Linked DNA regions of Homo sapiens: region 1 is linked to region 2. Evidence: fine-mapped expression QTL. A gene starts in region 2. The other region holds a variant in brackets. All regions are shown on one strand. Distances are between the middles of the regions. Region 1 overlaps GGT7 (gamma-glutamyltransferase 7). Region 2 holds the start of MYH7B (myosin heavy chain 7B).

Region 1 (2,904 bases), 92 kb before region 2:
TGGTAGAAACTACGGCAAACTGGACAGTGCATGCCCATCATGGGAAGCAGCTTCTATTCCACGCCAGGTAACTTCAGCCATGTGAGAATGCGGGCCCAAGTTGTTATCGGATTTCCCGATTGTTCAAGAGATGTTGGAAATCTGGATTTTTATGAAAATTCTCAACTTTTTAACAAAAGCAAACAAAATTTTAAGACAGTTCAGTGTCTAAACCAAACCAGTCTGTGTGCTGGGTGTTGCCCATGGGTGGCCAGCTTGTAACTTCTAAGAGTTCTTAGTGCAGGGTGTATTTTTGGAGGACAGAGGGTGCAAGGCTTTTCATCAGACCCATAGGGATTTATGATCCTAGAAGTTGAAATATCTCTGCCTTAATTGATGACAGTATACCTCCACCTGTGCATCTTAATTTATGGTTTACAAATTTCTTTTTCTAGTTAAAAAAAAAAAAAAAAAGCTTCTGAAAACACTTTCAGGTTTTCCATAAGGTAGCTTTGCTCTTCTGACTCCATCCAGGGAGAAGGGGGTGAAATTTGGTGTAGAAAGAGAAAATGCAAGGAGTTGGGGCCCAAAAGCCCCTCTCCCTAAGTTAGGAGTGCTGCACATGAGGCCTACAGACCTGGAGGCAAGAAGTAGGCCTGGGGGACCCCGACCTCCACTGCTCCTTACCCGCCCAGGCCAGAACTGTGTGGAGCCACGATACCCAAACACAAGGCTGCTGCCACCGCTGCGTCCACAGAAGATCCCTGTTTACTGAGCACCTCGATGCCCAGTGAAGTGCAGCGGGCAGCATCGGTCACCACGGCACCCTGCTGGAAGATCTGGGAGGGGAAAGAGGACTTGGTGGGGGCAGGAGGAGCTGTCCACCTCCCTAGGGCACCTCCACTAGCCCTAGAACTCTACGCGGCATGAAGGTCGAAGCCCTGCCCCCTTGTTGCCTTGACTCTGCCCTCATTACCCCAAGTGCCTCCTAATGGATCTGTCCTTATTCTTCCTTGTTCTGTCTCCCTCATGCCCTGGAGCTCCTCTCTTTGGGACCTTCCTCTCCCAAGTCACCACCCTCTCTCCCCTTCTACCACTCAGCCATTCCCCAGTTTCCACAGTTCCTCAAACATTACCCCACTCCCCA[C/A]TCCCCAGTTTCCTCCCCCTCCCCATTTGTCCCCCTCACCTGGGGGTCCCCGAAGTAGATCTGCATGACCAGCGCCACGGTGACACCGGTAGCGAAGGTGAGACAGGCCGTGACGATGACCGTGAGCCCATCCTGGCGGCAGGAGCACTCGGCCGCTGCGGCGGAGAACGGGTCTTTGCGCGTCTCGCGTAGCGGCGACCCGTCTTGGCTGCCCATCTCCGACGACGACGATGGCAGCCGCTGCAGCCGTGCAGACTTCAGGAAGGAGTCCGGGTCTGCGGGCAGGCAGCCGGGGTCGGTCTGGGCATCTCCTATCTGGCCCTGCCCACCCTCCAGGTGGGACTATTCAGCGCTTTCCCTGCCCCGCCCCTGCCACACAATCCCCGCACTGGCTAGCACTACTCACCTTTCCTCATTTTCGCGTGCACCCCAGGACAGGCGGGGCAACGGTGCCCGGCTAGGAAGAGACAGGGACCTCCCCAGCTGGGCAGCAGGGAGGCTGGATTCCCGCCCCTCCCTGATACCTAGGCCAAATTTCCTGGCACCCAGGGCCCAGGGCTGAGAACACTTCCTGGGGGGTGGGGTGGGGGTTCCAGCCCTCAGTGGAAATCGGATCCTGCCCCAGTTGGGGCCCAGCCTTCCATGCAAGGAGGCAGCTACATAAACAGAGTGGAGGGACCCTGCCTTCCAACCTCACTTCAGTTATCAGCTCACTCATTCCTTAAATATGGAGAGCCCTATGCTAGGTGCCAGGGGACGGGAACAGATAGTTCCTGCCCTCATGTGGTTCATAGAGCCCTGGAAGAAAAAGCCAATAAGCAAAGGAGTCTATAATTACAAGTTGTGGCAGGTGCTATGAAGAAAAAGGAGGAAATGACAGAATAATGGTGGTAGGGGAGGGAGGATTCCTTAGCTGCAGAAATCAGGGAAGGCCTCTCAGGAAGTGACTTTTAAGCTGAAAACTAAGGGATGAGAAGGAGCCAGCTATAATGTAGAGCAAAGAGTATGTGTGTGGAATGTTCTGGAAAGAGGGAACAGTGGATGCAAAGGCCCTAAAGTGGGAATGAGCTTGGCACATTAGAAAAAAAAATAACCAAGGCCTGGGCGGCTCTGGTGTAGCAGGCATGGGGAAAGAGTAGTAAGGGTGGAAGCTAGGCCAGATACATACTGAGCGCAGTGGCTCAATCTTGTAATCCCAGCACTCTGGGGGGCCGAGGCGGGTGGATCACTTGAGGTCAGGAGTTTGAGACCAGCCTGGCCAACATGGTGAAACCCCGGCTCCACTAAAAATACAAAAATTAGCTGGGCATGGTGATGTGTGCCTCTAATTCCAGCTACTTGGGAGGCTGAGGCATGACAGTCACTTGAACCCACAAGGTGGAGGTTGCAGTGAGCCGAGATCGCGCCACAGCACTCCAGCCTGGGTGACAGAGTGAGACTCTGTCTCAAAAGAAAAAAAAAAAAAAAGGAAGATATGTGGGGCTCTACTAGCCTGGGGAGAAGCTTGGGTTTTACCCTAAGGACTATGGGAGGTCACTACTCGAGAGGCTATTTTTGTTTGTTTTTGAGATGGAGTTTCGCTCTTGTTGCCCAGGCTGGAGTGCAATGGCACAATCCTGGCTCACTGCACCCTCCGCTTCCTGGGTTCAAGCGACTCTCTTGCCTCAGCCTCTCCAGTAGCTGTGATTACAGGCACATGCCACCATGCCTGAGTAATTTTGTATTTTTAGTAGAAACAGGGTTTCAGCATATTGGCCAGGCTGGTCTCGAACTCCTGA
Region 2 (2,904 bases):
GTGGAGGTTGTAGTGAGCCGAGATCGTGCCATTGCACTCCAGCCTGGGCAACAAGAGCAAAGCTCTGTCAAAAAAAAAAAAAAAGAAAAAAAGAAAGAAAGAAAAGAAATCAGATGAAGGTGCTAAGTGGGCCCTTTGTTTTTCTCATTCTACAGCCTCAACCCTCCCTTGGCTTTATTTATGTTTTGCTGATGACATTCAAATCTACATCTTCACAGCAATACTTTCCTACCTTCAAACTAGAATATCCAATTTTTTCCTGCGAGTCTCCATACAACCAGAATAGAATTTGTTGTTGTCTCCCACAAATCTGCTTCTTCTCTGATGAACCCCACCCAGGTACCCAAGCCTTGAGTACTTGTTTCCTACATCTCACTCTCCCCAAATCCTATGGATTTTGCTGCCTAAGTATATAGTACTTTGAATTCCTTTATTTATCTCCATTTCCAGAGTTTGTAGCCTAGCCCCGGCCACTGTCATCTCTTCCCTGGGCGTGAAACAGATTCAGAGTCAGGTGTCTTCAGTGACCAGGATATGTTGGCCTCTGTCCCCCTTCCAGGACTTGGCACGTGCTGTCTTCTCTTTGGAACTCTCGCCACCACTCCTGATCTGGGCTCGCGATTTCGTTCCGGAAGCTGTCCCTGTTCTCCGCCCCGGGCTTCTACATTCTACAGCCCATCACTTTTCCCTGTACCGTAGGAACAGTGTTTGTCTTGATCACTTCTCTACCTAGTAATTAGCCGCGCTTAGTACTGTATTCATTCATCACATGAATGAATGAAGAATGAATGACAGACGGGTCAGATCACCGAAAGCCTCAAAACGCCCACAAGGAAATCGGTCGCACTTTATCGCCAGGACTTAGGCCAGTGCCTGGAAAGGCCCCGAGGCAACGACACGGTCGGCTGCCCAGGCTGGCCCCACTTCACGGGCCCGCTCGCTTCCACCCTGGACAAAGTTTGGCCCTAATCGCTCCCCGTTGTAGCTCTAACTGGCTCCAGTCTCACTGGCCTACATGCCCCGACACCGGCCCGATCTAAAGGCAGAAGATCCGGAAAGTCTGGGATCAGTGCGCGCCAGCCCAACCCCCTCACTAGACACTAGTTGCCCCGCTCCTACGAAGGGTTTCAGCCACAAGGTCTCCCGGCCTCCGGAATTCCAATCTCTTGCCAGACCCCTCCCTCACATCGTTCCTCCCGAGGAAACGTGACCCATGCCGGCCGCCGTGGCCGCCCCAACCTACTAGTTCGCCTTTCCTCCGCGAACGGTTCTCCCGGCCCTCGCGCCGCTACCCAGGCTCAGGGGGCGGGGCCTCGATGCGACCCAGTGCGCTTGCGCTGACCGCCCCGGCTAGGCTTAAAGAGCAGGCGGGGCAGAGACCCATACCTTTGGCGCTGAGTCGAGGCCAGGAAGGGGCGGTCGATGAGAGGGCGGCCTTAGCATTAGGAGTGCGTCGGCTGCACCCTGGCGGATGGACCTTGGGAAGGAGGGGAGGGGACCATCGGGGTCGGCGGGGAGCTACGGGTATGCATAGCTCATAGAGCGTCAGAGCTGACGACGACTAGTGGAAGATGGGGAAACTAATGCTCAGAGCGGGACAGTCACTACCTCAGGGGCACACAATTGATAAGGGTGGGGGTGGCCGTGGTAATGGAGGCCCCAAGGAGGGGCAGGGGCCCATAGTACGTCAGGGGCTGAGCCTGTATTAGAACCCAGGCTTGTTTCCCAGCCCAGCCAAGTCCCAGAAAAATCCCCCTGATTTTATCTATTTTTTTTTAACCTGGGATACCAGCAGGGAAAGCATTAGAGGCAAAAGGAAAGGATTTTCATTTTTCCAGGAATGCTGAAGTCAGGACTGTTTGAGGGGAGCCCTGTGTTTCTCAGACTCTCTTGTACCGTTTACATCAGGATCTGGGGCAGTTTTTAAAAATATGCGGATTCATGATTCCTACCCCCCACCTCATTGCTTGGCAGCCCCCAGGTGCCTTCCCTGTTTCTTCCTTCTGGGTTGTGATAGGCTTGTCTGCAGTCCGAAGCACCTGATACGAATTTTAGTTAAATGGAATGTATCAGTCCAGCTTCTAGGGAATTAACCATAAATAAGACACAGCCACTGCTTTCAGTCTGATAAGATAGGCAATAAACTGCCTTTCTGAAGGAATCAGGGATGGTTTTTGGGGTCTTGAAGGATGGATAGGAAGGTATAGGTAGTGAAGGAGGTAGGGGTAGAGGTGAGAGGCTGGGATGGGGACAGTGTTCCAAATTGCAGGAACAAAAGCAGCAAAGGCTGGCTGGGTGCAGTGGCTCAGACCTGTAATCCCAGCACTTTGAGAGGCCGAGGCAGGTGGATTACTTGAGCTCAGGAGTTGGAGACCAGGCTGGGCAACATGGCGAAACCCCGTCTCTACTAGAAATACAAGAATTAGCCGGGTGTGTTGGCCCGTGCCTGTAATCCCAGCTACTCGGGAGGCTGCGGCGTGAGAATTCTTGAGCCCCGGAGACGGAGGCTGCTGTGAGCTGAGATCACGCTGCAGCACTCCTGCCTGGGTGACAGCGTGAGACCCTGTCCTAAAAACAAAACAAACGAGCAGCGAAGGCATATAATTCTGAGGGTTGCTCGGCTTGTTTTACAGACACTGAGGAGTTTGGTGTGGATAATGAGGAAGGGCCTGAGGGTTGCAACAGGACTTAGGCGCTTAGGCTTGGAGAGGTAGCCTCAGACGCCAGTTCCACTGAGCAACAGGAGCTAAGGGCTTTAAGCAGGGGAAGGACATGGTTAGTTTTGTGTGTTAGGCACTGGTTACAGCGTGACAAATGGTTTGGAAGTGGGGAGATGGGCCAGAGAAAGCAGAGAGAGTTAAGATGTGAGATCATGAGGCTGTAGCCAGTGCAGCAGCTGTGGAG

What was found. PIP is the estimated chance that this variant, and not a neighbour inherited with it, causes the effect.
Region 1: its variant is the best candidate, but not a certain one, in a credible set for the expression of MYH7B in lymphoblastoid cells (GTEx, PIP 0.89).

The regions. Positions count from the first base shown.
Region 1 is chr20:34,862,148-34,865,051 of GRCh38, forward strand. GGT7 (gamma-glutamyltransferase 7) reads right to left here. Exons shown (of 15, transcript NM_178026.3): 2 at 1,166-1,401; 3 at 667-818. Among named protein-coding and RNA genes, the nearest start is that of GGT7, 9.3 kb to the right of the region's middle. RefSeq lists an enhancer at 886-1,437. The variant C/A (reference allele first, on the strand shown) is at 1,127.
Region 2 is chr20:34,954,484-34,957,387 of GRCh38, forward strand. It overlaps MYH7B (myosin heavy chain 7B), which reads left to right and starts at 1,385. Exons shown (of 45, transcript NM_020884.7): 1 at 1,385-1,524. It overlaps GSS (glutathione synthetase), which reads right to left and starts at 1,323. Exons shown (of 13, transcript NM_000178.4): 1 at 1,244-1,323. RefSeq lists enhancers at 1,131-1,230, 1,471-1,650.